2 linked regions of the Homo sapiens genome follow. Each later gene encodes a partner of the first gene's protein in a complex. Each region holds a gene or a part of one and is shown on either strand. Other genes may lie near its edges. A codon is read from its position in the direction of its gene.

What was found. The genes of interacting proteins can lie anywhere in the genome.
Region 2: the proteins of PTTG1 (region 1) and ESPL1 are in contact, whole or in part, in a cryo-EM structure (PDB 7NJ1), measured with the Homo sapiens proteins. Residues at the interface, in NP_001269311.1 of Homo sapiens: Tyr111, Pro112, Glu113, Ile114, Glu115, Lys116, Phe117, Phe118, Pro119, Phe120, Asn121, Pro122, Leu123, Phe125, Glu126, Ser127, Phe128, Asp129, Leu130, Pro131, Glu132, Glu133, His134, Gln135, Ile136, Ala137, His138, Leu139, Pro140, Leu141; in NP_036423.4 of Homo sapiens: His402, Thr405, Val406, Tyr409, Ser461 (codon at 1,582), Asn462 (codon at 1,585), Tyr465 (codon at 1,594), Tyr468 (codon at 1,603), Arg505 (codon at 3,673), Arg508 (codon at 3,682), Glu512 (codon at 3,694), Glu544, Thr547, Phe548, Arg551, Gln590, Lys593, Ala594, Val595, Arg596, Thr599, Gly600, Arg603, Gln634, Cys637, Tyr638, Trp683, Ile686, Glu690, Ile697.

Annotation. Positions count from the first base shown.
Region 1 is NC_000005.10:160,424,714-160,428,462, reverse strand, and holds part of PTTG1 (securin), read right to left. Parts: intron 749-3,749; coding exon 590-748; intron 1-589. UniProt on the Homo sapiens protein: Regulatory protein, which plays a central role in chromosome stability, in the p53/TP53 pathway, and DNA repair. Probably acts by blocking the action of key proteins.
Region 2 is NC_000012.12:53,271,151-53,274,899, forward strand, and holds part of ESPL1 (separin), read left to right. Parts: intron 1-1,570; coding exon 1,571-1,707; intron 1,708-3,666; coding exon 3,667-3,749. UniProt on the Homo sapiens protein: Caspase-like protease, which plays a central role in the chromosome segregation by cleaving the SCC1/RAD21 subunit of the cohesin complex at the onset of anaphase. During most of the cell cycle, it is inactivated by different mechanisms.

The DNA of each region.
Region 1 (3,749 bases):
TTTTTGGAATGTGTCTGTGGCCCCAGAATTGACTTTCATTAGGAAGTAAGTTTTAGAAGTATCTGAATCTCTATTGTTCTTAGAGACCAAAGTAAGAGTTAACAGTCTCACTAATGTAACTTATTAGGACAAATTATCCCACATCAGAACAAACAGAAAACATAATGTTGGCTTTGACTACCAGTTCAAACGAAGACCTCAGACCTTCTGCAGTAAGAAGTTATTGTCAGTCTATGCTACAGCACAGGTGTTTTGATCTTATATTAGCTTTGGATATAACATGGAATCATCATTCCAAGCAAGTTTATTATATATGCTTCAACTTATAGCCTAAGAAGATGTAAGTGAGAATTAATCTTTTGGCTGTAGTAAGACTATCCAGTTTCCAGAATAACAATTTTACTGGGGCATTTGGGACTGAAAAGCAATATTAATCGAGAATAGTTTATTTTTCTGAAAACTAATCCTTGTCATTTGAAGGACAGAAATTACTCACAGGCTCACCTCCCGCACAACTCTTCCCATGGTAATGGAAGTGTTATGAAACAAATTGTTTGCAGCCCTTCCAGAAGGGCACTTGCTCACTTACTGGATTCCCATGGTGGAGAGGGCATCTTCACAGGTGAAGGGGGGCCCAGCTGAAACAGCTTTTCAAGCTCTCTCTCCTCGTCAAGGATCATGAGAGGCACTCCACTCAAGGGGAGGTGCGCAATCTGGTGCTCTTCAGGCAGGTCAAAACTCTCAAAGTCTGTTACAGAGAGAAAGCGTTTTTGTCAGGGCAGCAGTTCTTAGTGTGGGCTGTAGATCCCTTGTGGTCTGAGACCCTTTGAGGGGGTCCATGAGGTCAAAACTATTTTCAAGACAATATTCACACCTTTTTCCACTGGGTTGACATTTGTAATGATGGTACCAAGGCAGCGGTGGAGAAAGCTGCTGGTGCCTCAACACAAATCAAGGCAGTGACAGTAAACCATATTAGCAGTCTCTCTGTTCTGCATCCTTCTTCGCTTGTAGTTTAAAAATGCCAGTTTCACTTACTGTCACTTCACCATATGCAGTAGAAAGTATTAATTTTATTAGCTCTCCATCCTTGAGATGTCTTTTTAATGTTCTGTGTGATAAAATGAGAAGTATGCCATAAAGCACTTCCACTGTACACCAAAATACGATTAAAAGGATTTGTGCAACTATATGAGTTGCAAGCTAAAACTAGAGAACATTTTCCTGGAATACTGTTTTTACTTGAATTAACAACTGCAAGAAATCCCATGGTCACTCAGACCTGGGTGCTTGTCACACTTTTTCTTAAAGGAATGAAAGAAGTCTATCACCTCAAGGAAAACTGACAGCCTTTGTTGCCAATGGCAGAATATAAAACGTTAAAATTTTGTCAAAAATTAAAAAATGAATATTTTTTTTTTGAGACAGAGTCTCACTCTTTCACCTAGGCTGCAGTGCAGTGGCACAATCTCCGTTCACTGCAACCTCTGCCTCCTGGGTTCAAGCGATTCTCCTGCCTCAGTCTCCCAAGCAGCTGGGATTACAGGTGCGCCCACCACACCCGGATAATTTTTGTATTTTTAGTACAGACGGGGTTTCACCATGTTGGCCAGGCTGGTCTTGAACTCGTGACCTCAGGTGATCCGCCCGCCTTGCCTCCCAAAGTGCTGGGATTACAGGCGTGAGCCACTGCATCTGGCCAAAAAAAGGAATTTTGGAAAACTTATCTGCAGTCATTAGCTTGACAGGTGCTTAGACTTTTCTGATGAGATCAGTTGTGGTATTAATGTGCTTTTGATATTGTATAATAAAGCATCTCAACATGTGGGTATCTACATATCTCAGTGAACCAGTATTTCTGAATGGTCAATGCAAGATAGATGCAAGAATATAAGATACATTCCAAGTGCAAAATAGACCAATGGATTTTACTGTCAAGATACAAAATGCTCATTGATACGGTTTCAGATTCCACATTGCAATTTTATATTCAGAAACAGCCACTTGTGGGTTTTAGTGTAGTGGCAAAAAAACCTATCCACACTTATCTGAAAAGACTATTAAAAACGTATCTGTGTGAAGCCAGGTTTTCTTCGTATATTTTAACAGATGTAAGAGTGAATATAGAATTTGATAAGAATCCAGTTGTCTTGTATTAAGCCAAATAAAGCAAATTTTCAAAAATATAAACCATGCCATTCTTCTCCAAACTTTTCCAGAACAAAAAATATTTTATGTTAAAAAAAAATTTACATTAATGTAATGTGATTACTTAGTGAATAAATATCTTAAGTTTCTCAGTCTTAATTTCTAATACAGAAAAGAGCAGATCACACAAGCAAAAGTGGTCTTCAATAATTTCTAAGAGTGTAAAAGGGTCTTTAAAACAAAACAAAAAAAAATGGAGAACCATTGTGTTAGGTAACATTCATTCTTAAAATCCAAGTACCTTACTTCTTAGCAATTATTTTTAAAAAGTGATTTTTCTGTACAGTAACAAAAGTAGGATTTAACACTGAATTTTCTTCAAGGAGCTGTTTTCTCAAAAGATTAGAAAATCATGGTTTTCCTTATCTTTGTCCGTAGGTGTGAAAGTTCTCTAAAGCCTAAGTACTCAAGAATTAGTCTGCTCTTTTACAAGCCTGGTAAAACCCAGAAGTCAAAAAGGAATTGAATGATATGTGACTATTTAACTTAAAACCACTGAATTGTAAAGGAAACCATAGACAGAAGACTCCAGAGGAAAGAAGTTTGCAATATAAGGGGAGCTAATTTTATCTACAAAGAGCTCTTTAATCAAAGAAAAACACAAACCGGAAGTTAATAAAAAAAGAAAAACTGTAAGTGGCCAATAATCAAATATGTTCACCATACACACAACAAATTTAAAACAATGAAATATTTCTTTTCTGATAAAGATTAGAGTTTTAAAACATTGATAGTGAACCTGGAGGAAGCAGACATCTTCATCCACTGTAGACGGATTTAACAATTTACACTATTTTGAAGGGCCACTTAGCAATATCTCTTTCCTGTAACACAGGATATTGTGGTCTTCATTCTTCATCAATATGCATAAATCTACCTCATTTTCCTCAATGGCTGAATGGTAATTATTAGCACGGATGCACCACATTTTATAATTTTAAAACTTAATCACACAAGCCCTTGAACTCAGCAATCCTTCTCAAAGTTTCCCTCCAGATGTACTCACAAACTTACAACAAGATCATTTCAAGAATACTAATCATAGAAATGTTTGTAGTTTCTAAAAGCCAGAACAATCTGAATGCAAATTAGTAAAATAACTACATGACCTCTTTGGCTAAATAAAAGGGTAAAAGATCCAGCTCAGAAATCCGTAAGGCCCTCCCTGATCTGATCCCACACCTCACCTGTATCCTCCTTTACCCTGCCTGTATTTTTCCTAGAACCACTTTAGTCTCTTTTCCTACCTCACGATCTTTGCACCACTTTGACCTACAATGCTGTTTTTTCTGGCTCACTCACAGTGAGATGACTTGTCCAGCATCTGACTTTCCCTTCAAATTATGGGCTCCCATAGGCAGGGCCCATCTTGTTAAACAGTGTGTCCAGGACCTAAGGATGCCTGACACACAGTAGCTTCTCCTGAAATGGTTGAGTAAATTAAAGCTTGAAAAGCTGTTTCCAAAACAGAAAATACTTCAGATACATGTAGCAGGTTGAAGAAATTTGAAAAACATGTCTTCACTGTCTTATGTAGATTT
Region 2 (3,749 bases), on another chromosome or scaffold:
GACCTTTCTGTATATTTAAGTGTTTTTTTTTTTTTTTTTTTGAGACAAGGTCTTGCTCTGTCACCTAGGCTGGAGTGCACTGGCACAATCACGGCTCAACACAGTCTCAACCTCCCAGGCTCAAGCGATCCTCCCACCTCAGCCCCGCAACGAGCTCACCTTGCAGGTTCAAGCGACTCTCCTGCCTCAGCCTCCCAAGTAGCTGGGACTGCAGGCGCGCACCACTATGCCTGGCTAATTTTTGTATTTTTTGTAGAGATGATGTCTGGCCATATTGTCCAGGCTGGTCTTGAACTCCTGGACTCGAGTGATCTGCCCACCTTGGCTTCCCTGAAACCCTGTCTCTACTAAAAATAGAAAACTAGCCAGGCAAGGTGGTGCATGCCTGTAATCCCAGCTACTTGGTAGGCTGAGGCAGGAGAGTCGCTTGAACCTGCAAGGTGGAGGTTGCAGTGAGCCAAGATTGCACCACTGCACTCCAGCCTGGGCAAGAGGGCACTCCAGCCTGGGCAACAAGAGCGAAACTCCATCTCAAAAAAAAAGGAGAATTCTTCCCACAGAGTACTGAAGACTGACTTTATTTTCTCCCAGTCATCTATGTTGATGGCCAAGAAGCTGCATAAATAAGTTATTATCATTTATTCAGCAAATATTTGTTGCCGGGCGCAGTGGCTCACGCCTGTAATCCCAGCACTTTGGGAGGCCGAGGCGGGCGGATAACGAGGTCAGGAGATCGAGACCATCCTGGCTAACAGTGAAACCCCGTCTCTACTAAAAATACAAAAAATTAGCCGGGCGTGGTGGCAGGCGCCTGTACTCCCAGCTACTCAGGAGGCTGAGGCAGGAGAATGGTGTGAACCCGGGAGGTGGAGCTTGCAGTGAGCCAAGATCGTGCCACTGCTCTCCAGTCTGAGCGACAGAGCAAGACTCTGTCTCAAAAAAAAAAAAAAAAAATTTGTTGAGTACTCACTGTGTGCAACGCACTATTTGGAGTACTTGGATGTGTCGGTAAGCAAAACAAAGTTTCCTTCCCTCATGGAGCCACGTTCTAGTTTGGGGGGAAAAGATAAACAGATTCAGTAAATAAGTGAATTATCAACATATTAGAACGTGATAAGAAATGTGGGGGAAAGGAAAAGTAGAGCAGGATAAGAAAGGGAATTGGGAGTCTAAGGTGCATGACGGGGGGCAAGTTACCACCTTAAATCAGGTGGTCAGGGTAGACCTCATTGAGAGGGTGACATGAGCAAAGGCTTGGAGGATGTGAGGGAGTCAGCCATGTGGGTTCCTGGAAAAGAACATCCCTGGCAGAAGAAACAGCCAGTGCTGAGGCAGGAGGGGGTCTCGTTTGTAAAATGAGTGCAGATGGGCTGAGTGGTGTGAAGGGCATGGGCCTATTTGGGGCAGGAAGGGGAGAGCCGCCCCTTCCCCATTCCTAGCAGTAGGGGTTCCTGTCTGATCTGGAAGCTGCTGAACTGACCACAGATCCAGCTGATCTCTGCTGCCTCTCCAGGAGGAGAGGGTGGTGGGAGCCTTTCCTATGGTCAATTGTGCCTTTTCTCCCCTGCAGCTTCTTACACCAGTAATTTGGCCTACAGCTTCTATAGTCACAAGCTCTATGCCGAGGCCTGTGCCATCTCTGAGCCGCTCTGTCAGCACCTGGGTTTGGTGAAGCCAGGCACTTATCCCGAGGTGCCTCCTGAGAAGGTACAAGGGAATGAGAGATGCAGGAAAGGAGCTTATGTGGTTGGGGAGCGGGGGGAGCGGGGAAGGGCCTCACCAGCACCCTGCCTTGGAGTGGGAGGTTAATAGCAGCATGTTGACACCAGTATCTGGAGCAGTGTTTCCCAAACCTCACTGTACTGTTACTTACTGTTGACTCATTTTTTTTTTTTTTTTTTTTTGAGACGAGTCTCGCTCTGTCGCCCAGGCTGGAGTGCAGTGGCACAATCTTGGCTCACTGCAACCTTTGCCTCAGCAAAGGTTCAAGCAATTCTCCTGCCTCAGCCTCCCAAGTAGCTGGGATTACAGGTGCCCACCACCACGCCCAGCTAATTTTTGTATTTTTTGTAGAGACGGGGTTTCACCATTTTGGTTGGCCAGGCTGGTCTCAAACTCCAGACCTCAGGTGATCCGCCTGCCTCAGCCTCCCAAAGTGCTGGGATTACAGGTGTGAGCCACCGCAGCCGGCCTGACTCACTTTTTATATTTAGCCTGGTCCTAAGCTACTGGTTTCCAGCCAAGCTGCACATTAGAATCACCTGAGTGACCTTTAAGAAAATTCTAATGTCTGCCCCGAGTTAATTGCATCAGAATCTCTAGTGTTTGCCGGGCGTGATGGCTCACGCCTATAATTCCAGCACTTTGGGAGGCTGAGGCAGGTGGATCACCTGAGGTCTGGAGTTTGAGACCAGCCTGTCCAACATGGTGAAACCCCGTCTCTACTGAAAATACAAACATTAGCCAGGCGTGGTGGCATGTGCCTGTAATCCCAGCTACTTTGGAGGCTGAGGCAGGAGAATTGCCTGAACCCAGGAGGTGGAGTTTGCAGTGAGCCGAGATTGTGCTACTGTACTCCAGCCTGGGCTACAGAGCAAGACTCCATCTCACATCTGAATATTTTCAAAGATCCCCCAGGTGGTCCTTTGAGCAAGGAGAGTGAGAACCTGGGTTCTTGGTTTTTTGGTTTTTTTTTTTTTTTTTTTTTTTTTTTTTTGGAGACTGAGTCTTGCTCTTGCTTTGTCACCCAGGCTGGAGTGCAGTGGCACGATCTCGGCTCACTGCAACCTCCACCTCCTGGGTTCAAGCAATTCTCTGCCTCAGCCTCCTGAGTAGCTGGGATTATAGGCATGCGCCACCATGCCTGGCTAATTTTTGTATTTTTAGTAGAGACGGGGGTTTCATCATCTTGGCCGGGCTGGTCTTGAACTCCTGACCTCATGATCCACCCGCCTCGGCCTCCCAAAGTGCTGGGATTACCGGCGCAAGCCACCGCGCTGGGCAAGAACCAGTGTTCTTAAGCAAGAATACCTGTGAACTGATGCATTGGCGGGATTGGCAAGCAAGATGAGTCATAGAGGGGCTTGGGTTTCATCTTAACTGAGATGATAAGCCTCTAAAGGATTTAAGTGGAGGCATGACAGCAGACAGGCATTTTGGATTTCCCTGACTTCGCTGTGATGAATGGAGTGCAGGAGAAAAGACCGGGTAATCAGGCTGCTATAGTATTCTAGGCAGGGAAGGGTGGGCTGAACTGAAGCAGCTGCACGAGGGATGGAATGCAGTGGATCGGTGCGAGAAGCCAAGGATTAACCTGGTAGGTGACTGGCGGGAGGGAGAGCGAGAGAAGGGAACATCAGAGATGGCCCCACATTTCTTACTCAGGAGAAGGCAGTGCCATTTGCTGAGAAGGATTACAGGAGAAGCAGGTTTTCAAGGGTGTGGATGATGAACATAGGGGTGGAGTGGATTGCAGCCTCTGAGTTGAAGGCACTCAGAGTATTTCATTCTTAGGTGTCTCCTGCCTTGGGTGGGTGTGGCTCAGGAGGCCCACCTGCCAACCCCGCCCCCTCATGTGGTGTATGTACCTATTGCATGCATATCCCCTTCCACCATACACACTCACTGGTTCCTCTCCAGTTTGGTCTGTTCCCTTTCTCTGGTCAGTTGCACAGGTGCTTCCGGCTACAAGTAGAGAGTTTGAAGAAACTGGGTAAACAGGCCCAGGGCTGCAAGATGGTGATTTTGTG